5 separate regions of the Homo sapiens genome follow, and all the other regions are reported to be linked to region 5. The links are microRNA targets in miRTarBase. Many come from high-throughput screens and were not tested one by one. Region 5 holds a microRNA gene; each other region holds the end of a gene's coding sequence.
Evidence for each region. Region 5 holds the annotated microRNA hsa-miR-5588-3p (AAGUCCCACUAAUGCCAGC, at 2,619-2,637, opposite strand). A microRNA usually pairs through its seed, bases 2 to 8, with sites in the 3' UTR of a target mRNA and lowers its output. Matches are read on the target gene's strand: a 7mer-m8 pairs with bases 2 to 8, a 7mer-A1 pairs with bases 2 to 7 and ends in A, and an 8mer does both.

Region 1: the mRNA of ZSWIM1 is a reported target of hsa-miR-5588-3p. Seed matches in the 3' UTR shown: 8mer at 1,213-1,220.
Region 2: the mRNA of SLC16A9 is a reported target of hsa-miR-5588-3p. Seed matches in the 3' UTR shown: 8mer at 646-653.
Region 3: miRTarBase lists LRIF1 as a target of hsa-miR-5588-3p. Seed matches in the 3' UTR shown: 8mer at 1,442-1,449.
Region 4: miRTarBase lists SNU13 as a target of hsa-miR-5588-3p. Seed matches in the 3' UTR shown: 7mer-m8 at 2,486-2,492.

Annotation. Positions count from the first base shown.
Region 1 is chr20:45,883,283-45,887,429 of GRCh38, forward strand. ZSWIM1 (zinc finger SWIM-type containing 1) reads left to right here. Exons shown (of 2, transcript NM_080603.5): 2 at 1-1,984. The coding sequence ends at 768. It overlaps SPATA25 (spermatogenesis associated 25), which reads right to left. Exons shown (of 2, transcript NM_080608.4): 2 at 3,209-3,863. The coding sequence ends at 3,235. Among named protein-coding and RNA genes, the nearest start is that of SPATA25, 2.3 kb to the right of the region's middle. RefSeq lists enhancers at 3,051-3,551, 3,552-4,052.
Region 2 is chr10:59,649,062-59,653,191 of GRCh38, reverse strand. SLC16A9 (solute carrier family 16 member 9) reads left to right here. Exons shown (of 6, transcript NM_194298.3): 6 at 242-2,428. The coding sequence ends at 420. Among named protein-coding and RNA genes, the nearest start is that of SLC16A9, 59 kb to the left of the region's middle.
Region 3 is chr1:110,944,721-110,948,720 of GRCh38, reverse strand. LRIF1 (ligand dependent nuclear receptor interacting factor 1) reads left to right here. Exons shown (of 4, transcript NM_018372.4): 4 at 322-1,531. The coding sequence ends at 762. Among named protein-coding and RNA genes, the nearest start is that of LRIF1, 17 kb to the left of the region's middle.
Region 4 is chr22:41,671,605-41,675,753 of GRCh38, forward strand. SNU13 (small nuclear ribonucleoprotein 13) reads right to left here. Exons shown (of 3, transcript NM_001003796.2): 3 at 2,329-3,591. The coding sequence ends at 3,329. It overlaps LOC107985567 (protein LLP homolog), which reads right to left. Exons shown (of 1, transcript XM_047441692.1): 1 at 3,598-4,149. Among named protein-coding and RNA genes, the nearest start is that of SNU13, 15 kb to the right of the region's middle.
Region 5 is chr3:185,250,592-185,254,740 of GRCh38, forward strand. It overlaps MIR5588 (microRNA 5588), which reads right to left and starts at 2,681; the gene lies at 2,619-2,681. EHHADH (enoyl-CoA hydratase and 3-hydroxyacyl CoA dehydrogenase) reads right to left here and starts at 3,458. Exons shown (of 7, transcript NM_001966.4): 1 at 3,358-3,458. The coding sequence starts at 3,431.

The DNA of each region.
Region 1 (4,147 bases), not on the chromosome of region 5:
TCACACTGGCTGCTCAACGACCGCATCTGGCTGGCTCACCGCTGGAGAAGCCGAGCTGAGAGCAGCCACTACTTCCAGAGCCTCGAGGTCACCACCCACATCCTCAGCCAGTTCTTTGGTACCACCCCATCTGAGAAACAAGGTATGGCTTCTCTGTTCCGTTACATGCAGCAGAACTCTGCAGACAAGGCAAACTTCAACCAGGGCCTGTGTGCCCAGAACAATCATGCTCCCTCAGACACCATCCCCGAAAGCCCCAAACTGGAGCAGCTGGTAGAATCCCACATCCAGCACTCCCTCAATGCCATCTGCACAGGGCCAGCAGCCCAACTGTGCCTGGGCGAGCTTGCTGTGGTCCAGAAATCCACACACCTCATTGGCTCTGGCTCAGAAAAGATGAACATACAGATCCTGGAAGATACCCATAAGGTGCAGCCCCAGCCCCCTGCCAGCTGCAGCTGCTACTTTAACCAGGCCTTCCACCTGCCCTGCCGCCACATCCTAGCCATGCTCAGTGCCCGCCGCCAGGTGCTCCAGCCCGACATGCTGCCGGCTCAGTGGACGGCAGGCTGTGCTACCAGTCTAGACAGCATCCTGGGCAGCAAGTGGAGTGAGACCCTGGATAAGCACCTGGCAGTGACTCACCTCACCGAGGAGGTGGGTCAGCTGTTGCAGCACTGCACCAAGGAGGAGTTTGAGCGGAGGTATAGCACCCTGCGGGAACTGGCCGACAGCTGGATTGGGCCTTATGAGCAGGTCCAACTCTGATTATTCTCGATGCCCAGAGATGCTCATGCACCTGTGCACACTCACATCCACCCATACACACACACACACACACACACACACACACACACACACTCCCTTACACTGTTGTACTTCCGTGGGCCCTCCTTCCAGAACAAGGACAACAAGGACAAGGTTGAAGGGTCTTCTCATCTACCATGGCCTGCTACCTAGCATGTGTCTAGCTCAATGAGACAGGAGTCAGCAAATCTTAATCTGTTTAGTTTACTCAGGTGGCCACATACAGTCTCTGTTGTATATTCTTGGTTTTGTTTTAATATTTTTTTTCTTTTTTTTTTTTTTTTTTTTTTTGAGAAGGAGTCTGTCTCCGTCACCCAGGCTGGAGTGCAGTGGCGCAATCTCTGCTCACTGCAAGCTCCACCTCCTGGGTTCACACCATTCTCCTGCCTCAGCCTCCCGAGTATCTGGGACTACAGGCGCCCGCCACAATGCCGGGCTAATTTTTTGTATTTTTAGTAGAGACGGGGTTTCACCGTGTTAGCCAGGATGGTCTCGATCTCCTGACTTCGTGATCTGCCCGCCTCGGCCTCCCAAAGTGCTGGGATTACAGGCGTGAGCCATCGCACCCGGCCTGTTTTAACATTTTCATAAGGTAAAAACCTTTCTTAGCTCAAAGGTCTTTAAAAAAGCAGGCAATCCAGCTGGGCATGGTGGCTCACGCCTGTAATCCCAGCATTTTGGGAGGCTGAGGTGGACAGATGACTTGAGGTCAGGAGTTCAAGACCAGCCTGGCCAACATAGTGAAACCCTGTCTCTACTAAAAATACACAAATTAGCCAGGTGTGGTGGCGGGGGCCCTGTAATCCCAGCTACTCGGGAGGCTGAGGCAGGAGAATCGCTTGAACCTGGGAGGCAGAGGTTGCAGTAGGCCAAGATCCTGCTGCCACTGCACTCCAGCCTGGGAGGGTGAGACTCCATCTAAAAAAAATAAAATAAATGGCAACCCCTGGTCTAAGATAAGAGATAAAACATCAGGTGGTGAGGTTGAGGTTTGGGGCTTGGTAGCAGTTGCCCCAGTCATGAGATGACTCACTTAACCCGTCTCCTTTAAGTGAGCTGGGCTGGGAGGCTTCCTACAGGGGAAGAGGCCCCTCTGGGGAGCTGACTCAGCCAGGCTCCCTGAACTTTTTTCCTTGTCCCATCCTGGGGTCAATAAAACTGAATGTTGCATATTCTAGCACTTGTCTAGTTTTTTTTTTGTTCCATAGAAGGCAGTTTAGGGTATATCATGGAGAGAATAGACTTTAGAGTGTTATACAACATGTGAATCCTGGTTGGTTCCTTCCCTGCTTGATTTTTGTGCCTGGTTCTGCCTTTTACTAGCTATGAGACTTATTAGGATAAGTTACCCCTCTAAACCTCAACCTGATTATCTGTAAAAATGGGGATCTCCACAGGGTATGTTCACAGAGCAGGCATACCTAGTGGGTGCTCAATTAAGTATTAATTTTCCTTCCTTGCCTATGGTCCTATGACCTGCCTTCAACATGCTGGGAAATTTAAGGCAAGAGGAGAATTCAAATACCTAGGACTTAATATAAGAAATTCTGGCCAGGCATGGTGGCTCACACCTGTAATCCCAGCACTTTGGGAGGCCGAGGCAGGCGGATCACCTGAGGTCGGGAGTTTGAGACCAGCCTGACCAACATGGTGAAACCGTGTCTCTACTAAAAATACAAAAATTAGCCGGGCGTAGTGGCAGGCACCTGTAATCCCAGCTATTCGGGAAGCTGAGGCAGGAGAATCACTTGAACCTGGGAGACGGAGGTTGCAGTGAGCCAAGATCATGCCATTGCACTCCAGCCTAGGTGACAGAGCAAGACTCTGTCTAAAAGATAAAAATTAAAAAAAAAAAATTCTGGGTAGGCCAGGTACGGCGTCTCACGCCTCTAATCCCAACACCTTGGGAGGCCAAAACAGGCAGATTGGAGCAGCCTGGGCAACATGGCAAAACCCCTTCTGTACAAAAAATACAAAAATTAGCTGGATGTAGCACGTGCCTGTAGTCCCAGCTACTCAGGAAGGCTGAGGTAGGAAGATCACTTGAGCCCAGGAGGTTGAGGCTGCAGTGAGCTGTGATTGTGCCACTGCACTCCAGCATTGGTGACACAGTGAGACCCTATCTCAAAAAAAAAAAAAATTCTGATCAAGTCTTCAAAACAACATAAAAGCAGCCTTAACTCTCCAAGCAGGGGCCCCTACCTCAGATAATTTCCATTGTATCTACCTGACAAAACCTATCTCCTGTCTTAGTGGTATCTGGAGAAACTTTAGGGTCTGGAAGTCCCTGATGAAGGACTGGAATTTGTCAGAATGGCTCAACCACCAGCTCTATCCCCATCCCTGCCATAGGCCCTCCTCCCAACCCTGTCTGCCCAAGAACCATACGGAGAAACCACCCTACATATCTGGTGCTATTTCATCCATCTACAAGCAGGAGCCAGGAGGCTGGCCCCTTTTAGATCTCACTAGGGGCATCTTCCCAGAGGCTGTGTGGGCATGTGCCTGCTCCCACCGCGCCCCCTCCACAGCACCCTCTGGCTCCGGATGGGCCATCATGAAAGCTTGAGCGGCCCAGATCAGGTCCTCTTCCCGAACTCCTGGGACGGGCACGGTGGGGATGCCAGCGATCATCATGGCGAGGGTGAGGATGCAGATATCAGGCTGGGAGCTGGCCTCCTTCCCCACTGCCTCAGAGGGTACCGGTAGAACCCGTGGTGACAGCCCACACAGCATCAGGGGCCTAGGCCTGCTGGGGCCACCCAGGTCAGGGGCTCTGCTTCTGGAGTAGCCATTGTCCCAGCCCAAGCTCTCCAGCTGCCTCACATGCGGGAATTTGTGGCAGTTTCGGCTGTATTCCTTCCGTAGTGTCTCCCAGCTAGTCCCCCCAGGGCAGCCCCTGGCTTGTGGCATTGCCAGGGCTGGGCCCCAGGCCTGGGCAGCAGGTGCCACCTGCTCAGCTTTCTGGCTCAGTGGGCCTGTTCCACCAGAGGCCACCACCACTGGCTCTACAGGACTACAGAGGCCAAGGGACAAGCCTGGAGAAGCAGCCCCACCTGCAGAGACAGGAATGAAATGGAACGTTATTCTCAGTTCTTTGAGGAGGGGGCCCTGAGGGGCAGGGCATGGGAGCAGAGCTTGGGGGCGTAACTAAGACCAGCCCCAGCGGACTGTCTAGAGGTTGGGAACTAGGTGTTACTCATATCCACACTCCCAGTCCCCAACACGGAGTAGGTGATGGAGAAGCGTTTGTTGAATTAATGAATAGTGAGCAAGCGGGTAGTTATTGATTGGCAAGGATGTTTGGAATGGCTTTTCTTCTAAAAGAATTGATTCTAGG
Region 2 (4,130 bases), not on the chromosome of region 5:
CGCCTCGGCCTCCCAAAGTGCTGGGTTTACAGGCGTGAGCCACCGCACCCAGCCTGCCTGCTTATTCTTATCCAAATATTTGAGAGATTCTCTTCTTCTAACTCCCAGTAAACCACGCTGGAAGTAGTGGAGTAATATATATACTAATTATAACTATATATAAAACTGATATAATTAGGGTATGGGATGGATGTTCATACTATTTCCATGAAACTTACTTTTTTTCTTACTGCCTTTTCAGGTTGGTTTTATGACTGGACCCAGACCTATGATATTGCATTTTATTTTAGTGGCTTCTGCGTCCTGCTGGGAGGTTTTATTCTGCTGCTGGCAGCCTTGCCCTCTTGGGATACATGCAACAAGCAACTCCCCAAGCCAGCTCCAACAACTTTCTTGTACAAAGTTGCCTCTAATGTTTAGAAGAATATTGGAAGACACTATTTTTGCTATTTTATACCATATAGCAACGATATTTTAACAGATTCTCAAGCAAATTTTCTAGAGTCAAGACTATTTTCTCATAGCAAAATTTCACAATGACTGACTCTGAATGAATTATTTTTTTTTATATATCCTATTTTTTATGTAGTGTATGCGTAGCCTCTATCTCGTATTTTTTTCTATTTCTCCTCCCCACACCATCAATGGGACTATTCTGTTTTGCTGTTATTCACTAGTTCTTAACATTGTAAAAAGTTTGACCAGCCTCAGAAGGCTTTCTCTGTGTAAAGAAGTATAATTTCTCTGCCGACTCCATTTAATCCACTGCAAGGCACCTAGAGAGACTGCTCCTATTTTAAAAGTGATGCAAGCATCATGATAAGATATGTGTGAAGCCCACTAGGAAATAAATCATTCTCTTCTCTATGTTTGACTTGCTAGTAAACAGAAGACTTCAAGCCAGCCAGGAAATTAAAGTGGCGACTAAAACAGCCTTAAGAATTGCAGTGGAGCAAATTGGTCATTTTTTAAAAAAATATATTTTAACCTACAGTCACCAGTTTTCATTATTCTATTTACCTCACTGAAGTACTCGCATGTTGTTTGGTACCCACTGAGCAACTGTTTCAGTTCCTAAGGTATTTGCTGAGATGTGGGTGAACTCCAAATGGAGAAGTAGTCACTGTAGACTTTCTTCATGGTTGACCACTCCAACCTTGCTCACTTTTGCTTCTTGGCCATCCACTCAGCTGATGTTTCCTGGGAAGTGCTAATTTTACCTGTTTCCAAATTGGAAACACATTTCTCAATCATTCCGTTCTGGCAAATGGGAAACATCCATTTGCTTTGGGCACAGTGGGGATGGGCTGCAAGTTCTTGCATATCCTCCCAGTGAAGCATTTATTTGCTACTATCAGATTTTACCACTATCAAATATAATTCAAGGGCAGAATTAAACGTGAGTGTGTGTGTGTGTGTGTGTGTGTGCTATGCATGCTCTAAGTCTGCATGGGATATGGGAATGGAAAAGGGCAATAAGAAATTAATACCCTTATGCAGTTGCATTTAACCTTAAGAAAAATGTCCTTGGGATAAACTCCAATGTTTAATACATTGATTTTTTTTCTAAAGAAATGGGTTTTAAACTTTGGTATGCATCAGAATTCCCTATAGATCTTTTTGAAAATATAGGTACCTGGGTATCACACATAGAACTTTTAATTCTGCTGGTGTAGGCTGTTGCCCAAACATCTATAATTTTACTGAGCTCTTCAAGTGATTCTGATAACACAGCCTGGATTGAGAATTTTTATAAGATTGGCAATGGAAAAACATTTATTCTTTTAAATAATAATTTTTTTAAAACCCAAGAGGTCAGGGGATTTTATAAACCAATAGCCAAGTGTTCTTTAAATAGGAGGCACCCTTCCCATTGTGCCAAAATCATCTTTTCATTTATTTTGAAATTTGTATGATTATTTTATACTTGTATGTTGCCTTTCTTCGAAGGCGCCTGAAGCACTTTATAAACACAAATCCTCACAATACCTCTGTGAGGTAGGTAAATAGTACTTTTCTATGTAGTAAACCTGGAATATGGAGAATTTCATAACAGTTCATTCTACTTAATAATGCAATAATGGAGCTCCAAGTTGTCTTGGACTTCTACACCACACTCAGACTTCTGGAAAGTTTTCTGTACCTCATTCTTTAGTCCCTGTCAAGGTTAGTAAATAAAATAAGTGACATAAAAAAAAAAAAAACTAAACTACTTGTTGTGTTGAAAGTTCCTTTTTGCCAGTTATGTTCAGGAAACCCAATAACCTGAAAAAGTTTGACTTTGATGTGACATCTTCATATTCATCAATGCTGATAATTGTCCAAAGGCATCTTCACTATGTCTGCTAAATAACATCCAATGTGGGCGTTATCTGTTGTCTAGGGGATGAATTTTAAGTTACAATAAAATATTTTTCTTTGTTTTGCATCAGTTTGGTTGCTTTTTCTCCTCTTAGTTCTCCACCCAATTATAGTGACATGTCACTTGAATGTAAAACTATAAATTACCTGGCATAATTCAGACTCTGGAACATGGTTATTGGACAAAAGCATATTCAAAATGCTTAGCTACTTTTACCATTGCCTTCCAAAAAGCTAGTTTATCAGCTTTACCTCTTGTGGTAAAGAGTACTCTGCAGGTCTTAGTTCTTAATAATAATTTATAGAATTCTTAATATGTTTCAAGCTTATGTTGTTTAACCCTCATAATAACCTTGTGAGATGGAGATTATGACCCTCATTTTATGATCTAAAACATAATTGTCATAATACTATGGACAACATATTATAAAAGCATAAGTAATTTCCAAAATCAAAATGCAAAATTTTTCTCTTTGTAGAAATTAAAGTAAACCCTTTAATTTCTAACATGGTTCAGAAATTAGCCCTGGCCAGGAGGGTTGCTCTAAAGCCAATCCTTTAGTGAACAGAGAAAATTTTCTGTAGGGTAATCATGTCAGCAGGGAAGAAGGTTCAGCCACCGACCTTTAAAGGGCTCATGAGGAACAGTTCCCAAGAACCAGGAGTTCCAGTACTGGGAGGTCATGACCAAACATTTACGCCAGCCAACCAGTCCAGTGACCTTAGGTAGCCTCGGTGCTTAGCAGTTGGTATAGAATTATCCTAACTCAGGATGTTCCAGGACATAAAGGGGAGCTCCATTTTGAAACAAAGGACATCTCATTTTCTCTTTTACTTAGAAGGAATATTATATTGAACACATAAAATACATGATTTACATTAGCAGTGCCATGCACTTTCTCCTTCATTAGTAACAATCTTGGGCGGGGTACAGTGGCTTATATCTGTAATTCCAGCAATTTGAGAGACTGAGTGGGTGGATCACTCGAGGCCAGAATTTGGAGACCAGCCCGGTCAACATGGTGAAACCCCATCTCAACTAAAAATACAAAAATTAGCCAGGTGTGGTAGCACATGCCTGTAATCCCGGCTACTCAGGTGACTGAGGCAGGAGAGTCACTTGAACCCAGGAGTTGGAGGCTGCAGTGAGCCAAGATTGCACCACTACACTTCAGTCTTGGTGACAGAATGAGACCCCATCTCAAAAAGAAAAAAATATCTTGGGACCGTCTGCTATATAGTCAATTGTATATGAAGGATGTCAGTAAAATCCCTCTTTGAGGAAGGAGTTTAATCGCACTCAGTTAAAATGATCAGAGCTCTATGAATACATGGATAATACTTGGGACTGCAGTGTACATACTTGTTAAGGTTGTGATTCCACAACCAGATTGCCTATCTCAGTCCCTGTGGCCAGGTGACTGTGAGCGAATTATTTAGCCTCTCAGAGCCTCAGTTTCCTCATTTATAAAACACATCATAGGGCTATTGTGGGAATTAAATAAGATTCCCAATATATATACCTGATATGTAGTAGATGTCCAATAAAATATTAGCTATTATTTTTGTCGTTGTCATTCTTAAATGTATTGCTTCTCTGTACCTGAGGGAGGCATCAAGTGTTCCGGGAACAGGTGTAGGGTTAATGTTTGCATTAAAGGGCTTCATTTGGAAGAATAATGAGCCTCTGTTATTCCTAATCACATAATTGTCGCAGCTTTTGCCTGTTCTTGTCAAAATCTTCTTTCCCTAGGGATTCATGACTCAGC
Region 3 (4,000 bases), not on the chromosome of region 5:
GAAAAGAAAAAAACAATCAATTTTATATCTCAGGCACTTTACAAGTGCTATTATATTTCTGTGGTGAGTCAGTATGCCTTCTAATACTTGACTTGAGCAAGAAAATGTGAATTAGGCAATTTCTTCTTACTGAATATGATTAAGACATTTTGGTACCATACAGTGGGAAATATTTCCCTCTTGCTGTAGTTGTCTTCCATAAATTTTGTTAATTGTAATAGCTAGATATTTGTTTCTGCAGACGTTGTTAAGTTTGGTAGTACCCGGTGCATTTAGCAGTAACATTTCGTTTTTGTTTTGGAATGTTATTCAATATTGCAGCAGAATTTTGATAAGAAAAGAAAAGCAAAAACTAATAAGAAGATGGATCACATAAAGAAGAGAAAAACAGAGAATGCTTATAACGCAATCATAAATGGGGAAGCTAATGTCACCGGTTCCCAACTCCTAAGCAGTATTTTACCAACTTCAGATGTGTCACAACATAACATTCTCACGAGTCACAGCAAAACCAGACAAGAAAAGAGAACTGAGATGGAATACTATACCCATGAGAAGCAAGAGAAAGGCACTTTGAATTCAAATGCAGCTTATGAACAAAGTCATTTCTTCAATAAAAATTATACCGAAGATATTTTCCCAGTGACACCACCGGAGTTAGAAGAAACCATTCGAGATGAAAAAATAAGAAGACTTAAGCAGGTGCTGAGAGAGAAAGAAGCAGCTCTTGAAGAAATGCGTAAGAAGATGCACCAAAAATAAAATCTCCTGTAAAGACTTCAGTGAAATAGCTGTTTTTTAAAATATACTTCAGCATTAATAAGTTAATTGTAGGTGTGTTCTGAAAGTGTCTTTGAATATGAAGCTTGTTTTTTCATCAGTCGATTGTACAACTTTAAGGAATACAGAAAAGGTTGATTCACATATGACTTGTGAATAATTTACATGGGGTATCTATACCTTTGTCTTAGATACCTTTTTTTGGAAGGATAAATTTTATATTTTTCTATTATTTTAACTAGAATTCTCCAAGTTTGAATATTTGGGCAGGGTTTTTGTTATTGTTTGTATCTTTACCTAAATTGCTCAGGCATTATTCCAGCAGTAGATAGTGACTGTGTATTACTGAAATTTTACAATTCAAGAGAGGAAATCAGCTCCAAACTTAGCTTTTCCAGTGGATTTGTATATGTACTTGCTTTATCTCTTTACCCTTAAAATGATGATACCTTGTATTCACCATTGTTTTTTTTAATGTCGTGAAATAATATGTATTATGGCAACATTATTTAAACATTCAAACATTTCTCAAGAATGAGCAACATTTGTAACTTTACAATGTAATTTTATATAATCCAAAGGTATTTTAGAATTCAGGCCATTTGATGTTTTGTTTGCTTATAGTGATGTGTTCCCAGGCAAATGCTGCTTTTTTTTTTTTTGGGACTATGTACATACGTTACTGAGATTGTGTAAAAAGTAGATCCTGAACAGTTATCACATTTAATATTTCTTAAACTGTAAAAGTGTATTTTCTCTGTCTGGTTAATCTTTGATTTGGGAAAGTTTGGGAATGGTGTAGGGATAGGGATTAAGAGATGGGGAGTTAGCTGAGCGTGGTGGTGTGTTTGTAGTCCCAGCTACTCAGGAGTCTGAGTGGGGAGGACTGCTTGAGCCCAGGAGTTTGAGGCCAGCCTGGGCAGCACAGTGAGACCCTGTCTCTTAAAGGAGGAGGAGGAGAACAATGTTATTAAAAAATGATCAGGCCGGGTGCAGTGGCTCACATCTGTAATCCCAGCACTTTGGGAGGCCGAGGCGGGCGGATCACCTGAGGTCAGGAGTTTGAGACAAGCCTGGCCAACATGGCGAAACCCTGTCTCTACTAAAAATACAAAAATTAGTCGGGCACAGTGGCGGGCACCTGTAATCCTAACTAAGGAGGCTGAGGCAGGAGAATCGCTTGAACCTGGGAGGCAGAAGTTGCAGTGAGCCAAGATTGTGCCACTACTGCACTACAGCCTGGGCGACAGAGCCAGACTCCGTCTCAAAAAAAAAAAAAAAAAAAAAAAGGATCAAATCTCTGGAAGTAAGAGAGGTTAAAGAAAAAAAAAATCTGTGCAATGGCAACAAAAGAGTAAATCAGAAAATACTGTAAAGAAGTGAAATACACAGATCAGCTAGATTTTGCTGCTTTCTATTAACAGCTGTTTTGCAATATAATTCATGTACTGTAAAATCCAGCTTTTTAAAGTACACAGTTCTCTGGTTTTTAATATGTTTACAGAGTTGTACAACCATCAACACTATAATTTTAGAACATTTTCAAAATGTTCAAAACATCCCCCAAACAAACCTTATACCCATTAGCAGTCATTCCCCATCACCTCTCCTTATGCCATAGGCAAGCACTAAAAAGCTTTCTGTCTTTATGGAATTGCCTGTTGTGAACATTTCATATATATGGAATCATACAATATGTTTTTCTTTGTGATTGGTGTTTTTTTACTTAGTCTAATGTTTTCAAGGTTTATCCATGTTGTAGCATTTATCAGCACTTCATTATTTATTGCTGAATAATATTCCATCATGGATATACCACATTTTATCCATTCGTTATGAATATTTGGATTGTTTCCACTTTTGGCAGCTACAAGTAATGTTGCTGTGTATATTTGTGTACAAGGTTTTTTAATGGGTATATATTTTCAGTTCTCTTGGGTATATACCTAGGACTGTAATTGCTGGGTCATACAATAACTGTGTTTAACTATGTTTTGAGGAACTGCCAAACTATTTCAGTCAGGTTTTGCTCTCCCCACACCACATAAACATACTGTCAAGGTCACCAGTGACTTCCATATTACTAGATTCAGTAGTCAATTGTCAGTCTTCTTGATTTATCAGCAGAATGTAATTTCATGAATCATCACTTCCTTTGAAAAATGTTGAAACATTCTGTCATAGAAACAGTGCAAATGTATTGTAGAAAATATAGGCCAGGCGCAGTGGCTCACACCTGTAATCCCAGCACTTTGGGAAGCCGAGGTGGGCAGATCACCTGAGGTAAGGAGTTTGAGACCAGTCTGACCAACACTGGTGAAACCCCGTCTCTACTAAAAGTAGAAAAATTAGCTGGGCATGGTTGTGCATGCCTGTAATCTCGGCTACTGGGAATGCTGGGGCAGGAGAATTGCTTGAACCCGGGAGGTGGAGGTTGCAGTGAGTGGAGATGGTGCCACTGCACTCCAGCCTGGGCAACAGAATGAGACTCCGTCTCAAAGGAAGGAGAGAGGGAGGGAGGGAGGGGAAAGAGGAACGGAAGAAGGAAGAGGGGGAGGGAAGGGCAAGTGAAATATTAAAAATTGAAAATATAGCAAGCAAAATATTAAAAACTAGAACTTCATATTCCCATCCAAAGTTTACCACTAATACCTTATATATCCTTTCTGATCATTCTGTGTGCGTCATACATACATATATTTTTGATCAAAATGAGGTCCTTATTTACACTATTCTGAATCCTGCTTTTAAAGTCAAGAATTGGCCTGGCATACTCATACCTGTAATCCTTACACTTTGGAAGTCTGAGGCAGGAGGATCACTTGAGGCCAGGAGTTCGGCTGGGCAATGGCAATAGACCCCATCTTTGCCAAAAATTTAGCCAGGTGTGGTGGCATGTGCCTGTAGTCCCAGCTACTTGGGAGGCTGAGGTGGAAAGATCACTTGAGCCTAGTGGGTCAAGGTCGTAGTGAACTGTGAACATGCCACTGCATTCCAGTCTGGTTGACAGAGTGAGAACATACCTTTAAAAAAAAAAAAAAAAACAGCAACCTTGAGCTTTCCCTTTCAGTGTTTTCATCTCTAATACTAAAGCTAAATTTACCAATTTGGCCTCAAAACGTTTTTTACCACTGGTTTTTCTAAAGCAGTATTAAATCTAGGTCTATGTGTCTTATCTAGCTGTTATACCCTGTAGAGCTTTTAAGTGAGTGGTTTTGTT
Region 4 (4,149 bases), not on the chromosome of region 5:
GGAGCCGGGAACGGTGGCTCACGCCTGTAATCCCAACACTTTGAGAGACCAAGGTGGCGGGGGGAGGCGGGGTGTGGGCCATGAGGTCAGGAGTTTGAGACTAGCCTGGCCAACGTGGTGAAACCCCGTCTCTACTAAAATACAAAAAATTAGCCAGGCATGGTGGTGGGCACCTGTCATCCCAGCTACTTGGAAGGCTGAGGCAGGACAATCACTTGAACCTGGAAAGCGGAGGTTGCAGTGAGCTGAGATCGCGCTATTGCACTCCAGCCTGGGCTACAAGAGCCAGACTCTGTCTCAGAAAAAAAAAAAAGAAAGAAAAAAGTCATTACGTTGGCTGGGCGGGATGGCTCACGCCTGTAATCCCAGCACTTTGGGAGGCTGAGGCAGGTTGGATCACTTGAGGTTAGGAGTTCCCGACCAGCCTGGCCAACATGGTAAAACCCCGTCTCTACTAAAAACACAAAAGTTAGCTGGGCGTGGTGGCGTGTGTCTGTAATCCCAGCTATTCAGGAGGCTGAGGAAGGAGCATCGCTTAAACCCAGGAGGCGGAGGTTGCAGTGAGCTGAGATTGCTCCACTGCACTCCAACCTTGGTGACAGAGCGAGACTGTCTCAAAAAAAAAAAAAAGTAATGTGTCATTTAATGACAGAGGTAAGTTCTGAAAAATGCATTGTTAGGCAATTTCGTCACTGTGTAAACACCATAGAGTATACTTACAAAAACCGGCTGGGTGCGGTGGCTCACGCTTGTAATCCCAGCACTTTGGGAGGCCGAGGTGGGCAGATCAAGAGATCAGGAGTTCAAGACCAGCCTGACCAACATGGGGAAACCCTGTCTCTACTAAAAATACAAAAATTAGCCGGGTGTGGTGGCGTGCTCCTGTAATCCCAGCTACTCAGGAGGCTGAGGCAAAAGAATCGCTTGAACCCAGGAGGCGGAGGTTGCAGTGAGCTGAGATTATACCACTGCACTCCAGCCTGGGCGACAGAGTGAGACTGTCTCAAACAAACAAACAAAACCCTAGATGGAACAGCCTACTATACATACACCTAGGCTACAAACCTGTACTGCATGTTACTGAATACCGTAGGCAATTGTAACACAATGGCATTTGTGCATCTTAACGTAGGAAAGGTACAGTAAAAACACAGTATTACAATCTTAGGGGACCACTGTCATATATGTGGTCTGTCATTGACCAAAAACACTGAATGCATGACTGTGAAAAAGTAAGCACTGTGTAAAATTCCACCATCCAAAAATATAAAACTGCTTCAGGGGTGGTGATGAGAACACTGGAGTAAGCTGGGAGAAATGACCAGCCCAGGATGCACAGAACAGGTCCGACTGGCTAAGGTGGCTGCCAGGTTCCCCCAGGTGTGCTTCTTGCTAGAGCAGGGGTATATTGGCCCAAGCTGGCAAAGAGGGGATCACTATGGTACCCAGTTACTTGCACCTTGGAAGATTTCTCAAGCTGAGTTATTAGGCTCTCAAGGAACTTATCCTTAAGATAATAAGTAGAAGAGGCAAGTGAGGGGGCAGTGGCTTTAGTCACCAATACCAATCCTGCATGTGCCAAGGGTTACTAGAAACCCTGATTCTCCAACAGTGATTCTCAATTGGGGGTGATTTTACTGCCGGGGGCATTTAACAATGTCCGGAAACATTTTTTGGTTGTGGGGGGGTGCTGCTATTGCCACCTAGCGGGTAGAAGCCAGTGATGCTACTAAACATACAACACACAGGGCAGTCCTCACAACAAATTAACCAGCCCCAAATGTCAACAGCACGGAGGTTGAGAAAGCCAGTTCCAGTGATAGCAATGCTCCAGTTGAGTGTGTATAAGACGACATTTTGAACTGCCAAGGTAGAAACTACCTGGTAGGAGGAGACAGCTCTTCCATAGCCTTCTGGTAAAAAAAAGTCTAAGCAAGTGGCCAGGCGTGGTGGCTCACACCTGTAATCCCAGCGCTTTGCGAGGCTGAGACAGGCAGATTACCTGAGGTCAGGAGTTCAAGACCAGCCTGGCCAACATGGTGAAACCCTGTCTCTACTAAAAATACAAAATTAGCTGGGCGTGGTGACGCACGCCTGTAATCCCAGCTACTTTGGGGGCTGAGGCAGGAGCATCACTTGAACCCAGGAGGCAGAGGCTGCAGTGAGCCGAGATCGTGCCATTGCACTCCAGCCTAGGCAACAAGAGTGAAACTCTTTCACAAAGAAGAAAAAAAAAGTCTTAAGCAGCTATCACCACTCTAGTAAAGCTAAGTATGTCTTCATTCCAATTTTAGCCGGATACTTACTAAGAATCAGGCACTGCCATTCTGTCATCAAAATGGAACAGATTTATTAGGATGCTCACAAGAATGGAGAACACATGAACTAGCACTCTCCTCATGTGACAGAGAGTACATCTGACCCACATGGTGGCAGGACACAGGGGAAGGGCTCTCAGAGCTGGTGCCAAGTGTCCACCAAAGAAAGTCCCATTCACCAGAGACAGGCTGTTTCCTTGGACTCCACCATCTCTGTTACAGCTACCAGCCAGGTCTCCATGATCTTCCTGGAATCCTTCATGCCAGCATCAGTTCATGCTCTCTGAGCTTGTCACTCCCGACTCTTTCAAGACCCAGGTCAACTGCCCCATGGCTCACCCACCCAGGCTGCCTCCGGAGTCCTGCAGCACATCTCTTTGGTATGCTGCTGCCCTGCTACCCTCAAGGGCATGGTTGTGGGTAGGGGGAGAACATCAACATCACATTACCAAAAGCAAACAGCAGGGGTACATTAGTAAACGACACTTGGACATAGCCGAACAACCTCACAGAACACATGCTTCCTCCCCAAATGATACCTAATCCCCCAAGAGCAAATGAAACCCCTTGATCACTTGAACACGTATGAATGATTCTGTGTGCCAGGCACAGGGACACACAATGAATGCTGTTTAATTCCACCACACCCCGCACACAACAGGAAGCTAGTGGCTGAAAGCTGGAACCAGATCTCTGTCCTGGCTCCATCAGCTTTCTCCTGGCTCTTTCTGCCTTTCAACGGTGCCACCACCCTGCTTCTGTCTGCTCTGAACACTTGTTCCAAAAAGGGAGGATAAAAGGATGAAGGATGGCAGAGGGAGGGAGGAAAGGAAGGGGGATAGCAACCCTGTAAAACAGAACAAAAACAACACAAAAATCCAGAAACCAGATTTAGTACTACATTTTATAACAATAGAGAGTAGCTGAAAATACTACATGCTAACACAGATAATATGATACACAACCTCAGGGGGGAAGCTGGCAGGGAGCACGTGGCAGAGGCCACAGGTTTAGACTAAGAGCCTTTCAATGGACTGCTGAATGGATTGGATCTGCTGTTTCAGCTGCGAGCCTTCTTTGATGGTGACAGAACAGGCGATGACAGGCCTGGAGACCCCACAGGCTCTCCCCAGGGCCTGCTTGGAGCGCACAAACACGTAGGGCACATTCTTGTCTTCACACAGCAGCGGCAGGTGCAGAATGATCTCCAGTGGCTCGGCGTCTGCAGCCATCACGATGAACTCAGAGATGCCCCTGTTGAGGGTTTTGGTGGCTGCGGAGAGAAGGACGTGAAGCTAATAGGTGATGTGGGCTTGGGCAGGGCAGCCACAACAAACTGGGAAGAATGCCTAGGCACACACAATTATGTGTCCTAGACCGGCCCTGGGATATGATAAAGGATTCAAACACCAGTCAGTCATACACAATGGCATTTTCTCAAGCCCTACATTAAATCCACCACTTATCCTCAAAACACGTCCTGAATCTGACCACTTCTTCTTCTTCTTTTTTTTTTTTGAGATGGAGTCTTGCTCTGTCACACAGCTGGAGTGCAGTGGTGCGATCTTGGCTCACTTCAACCTCCGCTTCCCGGGTTTAAGTGATTCTCCTGCCTCAGTCTCCCAAGCAGCTGGGATTACAGGCACGTGCCACTGTGTTTAGCTAATTTTTGTATTTTTAGTAGAGAGAGGGCTTCACCATGTTGTCCAGGCTGGTCTCAAACTCCTGACCTCAAGTGATCCACCCACCTCGGCCTCCCAAAGTGCTGAAATTACAGGTATGAGCCACTGTGCCTGTCCTAATCTGACAACTTTTTTCTTTCTTTTTTTTT
Region 5 (4,149 bases):
AATAAATTTTAAAACAAAACAAACAACAACAAACTTCTGTAAAGGCCATATTGTTAAGACCAACAACTATTAGTTAAAACCCCAAGAAATAAAAAGGATACTTGCCCTTATTTATAATGATTCCCTTACACCTAATTACTTTTCACCTCTTAACCTAGATGAAATCAGACAAAACCTCTTGGCTTCAGCTGGTTAATTAGAAGCCAAATCTGACCATGAAAAGCAAATTCAGAACCATTATATAACATCAAAAAGTCCAAAAGGCACACATTTCCTTCTGAATAAACAATGCTTACAAAACTAGCCAAAATTAGCTCAATCAGTGCCACTGAGGAGAAGAAACCAGCTTTTCCCATTTCAACCTATCTTCCTTTTTTATGTTCATAATTTTGCAAATATCAAAAACAGGAAAAAAATGAAAATAGCTATAACAGATACGCACTTTACTAGATTCAAGCTGACAGAGAGAGTCATAGCAATGTAAAGGCCGCAGAAGTTATGAAATTATTTTCTCCTGTTAATACTGTCAGGCATGAAGAAATAGAGTCTGGAGTAGAGACAGCATTTCATGACTACTGACCAAAACTCTTCAGCTTCTTTGACTATAGAAGGTCTTTCCTTTTTTTTTTAGACAGTTTTTTTTTTTAAACCAAAAGTCATCAAATCAAGTTTGTGGCTTGTGACCAGGATTTTTTCAAAGAAAAAGAAGAGATGAGAAAATAGACTATATCAAACAATATACCAAGTAAGGATAGGTTTTGTTTTAGGAAACTGCTTTCGGTTACGTGTTTGTATGTAAGTGTGTCTTGAATTGCTACGTAAAAACGTGAGCTTTCTTACTCTGTGGATTACAGTAAAGCAATCGTGTGAAAGCCATTGTTCTGGGAGACAGGCCTATTAATCAGGCATGTCCTATACTTATAAAGAGGGCTGGTGTTTATCTGAATGGAAGCAAACATGGCTGGCTAAACTAGCAATGAAGGATTTAAACTATTTGTTTTGGGGAAAAAATTTATATGTGTGTGTGTGTGTGTGTGTGTGTGTGTGTATTACACTCAAGTAAGAATCTCTCAATCAGCTAGGAGGAGACGACTTCCCATATAAAATTAGAAATAGGAAGGGGAAAAGGAAGAAAGGGAGGAAAGAAAAAGTGTAAGAAAAAAATTGAGGAATCTGTTAAACTTGAGGAACTCCTAGGATGTCCATTTCTACCTAAAAAAGTTCAGAAGACAGACAAAAAAGGGCAGAGAAGTACTTATTCCCAAGTGGAGAATATCTTCTTGATGAAACTGAAGTGGGTCCTGAGTAGCAGGGCCTGTTTTTGGGGCTTGAACAGGTCTTCTGACTAATAGGAATAACTAACATCTATTAAATGCCACTTCATAATTTCCAGCTGATTTAAACTTCACAACTTTATGAGGTAGGCCCTAACATTTCTCCTGCAAAGAGGATGGGGGTGGCACAGGTGGTTGCATGGGTGGGCAAGGAGAGCAGGTTAAATTCCAGAAATATTAAAAGCAATTGTCAGAGGCTGGGCACGTGGCTCATGCCTGTAATCCCAGCACTTTGGGAGGCCGAGGCAGGTGGATCACGAGGTCAGGAGATTGAGACCATCCTGGCCAACATGGTGAAACCCCGTCTCTACTAAAATACAAAAAATTAGCTGGGCGTGGTGGCACGCACCTGTAGTCCCAGCTACTCGGGAGGCTGAGGCAGGGGAATCACTTGAACCCGGGAGGCAGAGGTTGCAGTGAGCTGAGATCACGCCACTGCACTCCAGCCTGGCGACAGAGCAAGACTCCGTCTCAAAACAAGCAAATGAGCTTAAAAAAAAAAGAAAAAAAAAAAACAGTTGTCAGAAAATATTCCTAGTCATGGGTATTAGAGTATGGAACTTTTCCCCCTAAGGTCCTAATATCTAGCAATTCTAATCAGTATATAGACCAGTCCAAAATTGACATGTAATCATATTACTTACATTTTTCTTTGTCAAAACCAATATAACAGATATTTTGCTTTTTATTCTGGGAATGGCAAGTTAGTAGACATGTCATCCTTATGTGATTTTAGTCCTGCATTTTTTGACATTATTAAATGCAATAATTCATAATGAATTAATATTAATACTAATGATAAATCAAATCCAATGACAGTAGGATTTTTAAATTCTATTAAAATTAGCAGGTCTTCTCATTTCAGTCTCTTTGCTTCAGCAGCATGTTATAAGAATTTTGACCAAAGACCTTTCTCTCTATGCTTTATATATTCTTGATAAATTATAATTTCCACTAATCTTATTCCCTGTGGATAGGTAATTCTTTTTCAAGGCTGACATATAATTATTTTTTTAAGAGATGTAGAAGGACCAAACCAAATAATCATTACTTTTCAAAAAGGCAACATTGATCTCACTTTTTAATGTTTAAAGTGCACCACACAAGGCAAATACTCCCCAGTGAGAAAAAGAAGATAAGGTGCAATTTTTCAGAAAATGCTATTGCATAGGCTTAGTCTGATGTGAGTCTTCCTTGGAAGCACCAAAGTCCTGAGGTTTAAACAAATCAGGAGAAATAATTTTGCGTTTCCGGGCCAGGGCAAAATTCTGCTTTAATCACTGAGCTGGCATTAGTGGGACTTTTAACATTAAAAAAAAAAAAAAAAAAAGTCCCACTAATGCCAGTGATTGCCCTATTCCTAAAGCCTTTAGCCAAACATTGTAAGGACAGCCTGGACTCAAAGAAGGGGAGTGAGGCTGGATCAAAGTCCAACATCAAACTAAGTTAAGACCTTTGGATTAGAAAGTCGGCCTGCACACTGGGACCTGTTGTGGGGTGGGGGGAGGGGGGAGGGATAGCATTAGGAGATATACCTAATATTAAATGACGAGTTAATGGGTGCAGCACACCAACATGGCACATGTATACATATGTAACTAACCTGCACGTTGTGCACATGTACCCTAAAACTTAAAGTATAATTAAAAAAAAAAAAGAAAAATAAAAAGTCGGCCTGCAAAGCCAAAGTTGCAAGTAAGCAGGAGGGCTCCGCATGAAGGACAGGTCGAGGCCAACTCCCTAAGTGTTGATCTGTCTCAGCCTCAGCCTCAGTTTCCTTATCAGTAAAACGGGGACGAGAGTTCCCTGCGAAGATTAACCAAGCTAATCTAGGTTAAAAAAAAAAAAAAAGAAAAGAAAAAGAAAGAAAGAAAAGAAAAAAAAAGTTCCTGGCATGTACCAGTTGCTCAACTCTTGAGTGTCCTTCTCGGTTTAAACCGACGGGGGAGAGTCAAAGCCTCCGGAGCCAGAGGGCGGCTAAGGCCCGCACGGTCCCCGGGCTGGAGGCGACCGAGCCCGTTACCTGATCGCGTTGACCGGCGGGTTTCGGAGGCGGATTAGCGCCAAGGCGTTGTGCAGCCGCGTATACTCGGCCATGTTTCCTCTATCACCGAGGGCACCTCTGCCTCTCGCCGTCAGGCAAACCACTTTTCCGGGCGCGCCCGGCCTCCTCCAGAGGAGGGACGCCGGCTGGGCCAATGCGAGCCGGGGCGCCGCCTCCCGCCGCGCCTCTTCCCACCCAGCCCTCCTCTCCCGAGACCCCACCCGGCGCTCTACAGACGCTTGTCGCTTTCCCTTTATTAACTCCCATGCTGCTCCCACCAGAAGGTACAGCAAGGAGAATGATGGAAAACAGCTGTAATTGCCGGCAAGTCGAAGTTTGTAACCCCTTGGCCCATAGGGGCTGGCTACTGAGGACAAGTTCTGAGTTCGCTGAGACGGGCAAGCTGTCCTCATCGCGGTATTCATCTTCATGATCTTTCTGAACAGGGACAGATACCTGGGGCCCTCCCTGACAGTTATGTGATATTGATACACATCTGGAACACATAAAATACACATTGTTCATTTCACCTAAATGAGTAGGGTACTAATGAAACAGCCTTTGCAAAAATTCTAACAGTGAGAAAATTATGGCAGTCAAAGAGATCTGATTTAACCAACCCCATCTTGCCTTTAGCTGCCCTTAATTATTCCTGAGCTTAGGCCAAGTTAACTTTGGGAGACATTTGGTTTATAGTTTAAATGATAATAGCCCTTCCCCAAAACTCAACTGCCTTTGTAAAGCTAACCGAGAGACCACCAGGCTAGGAGG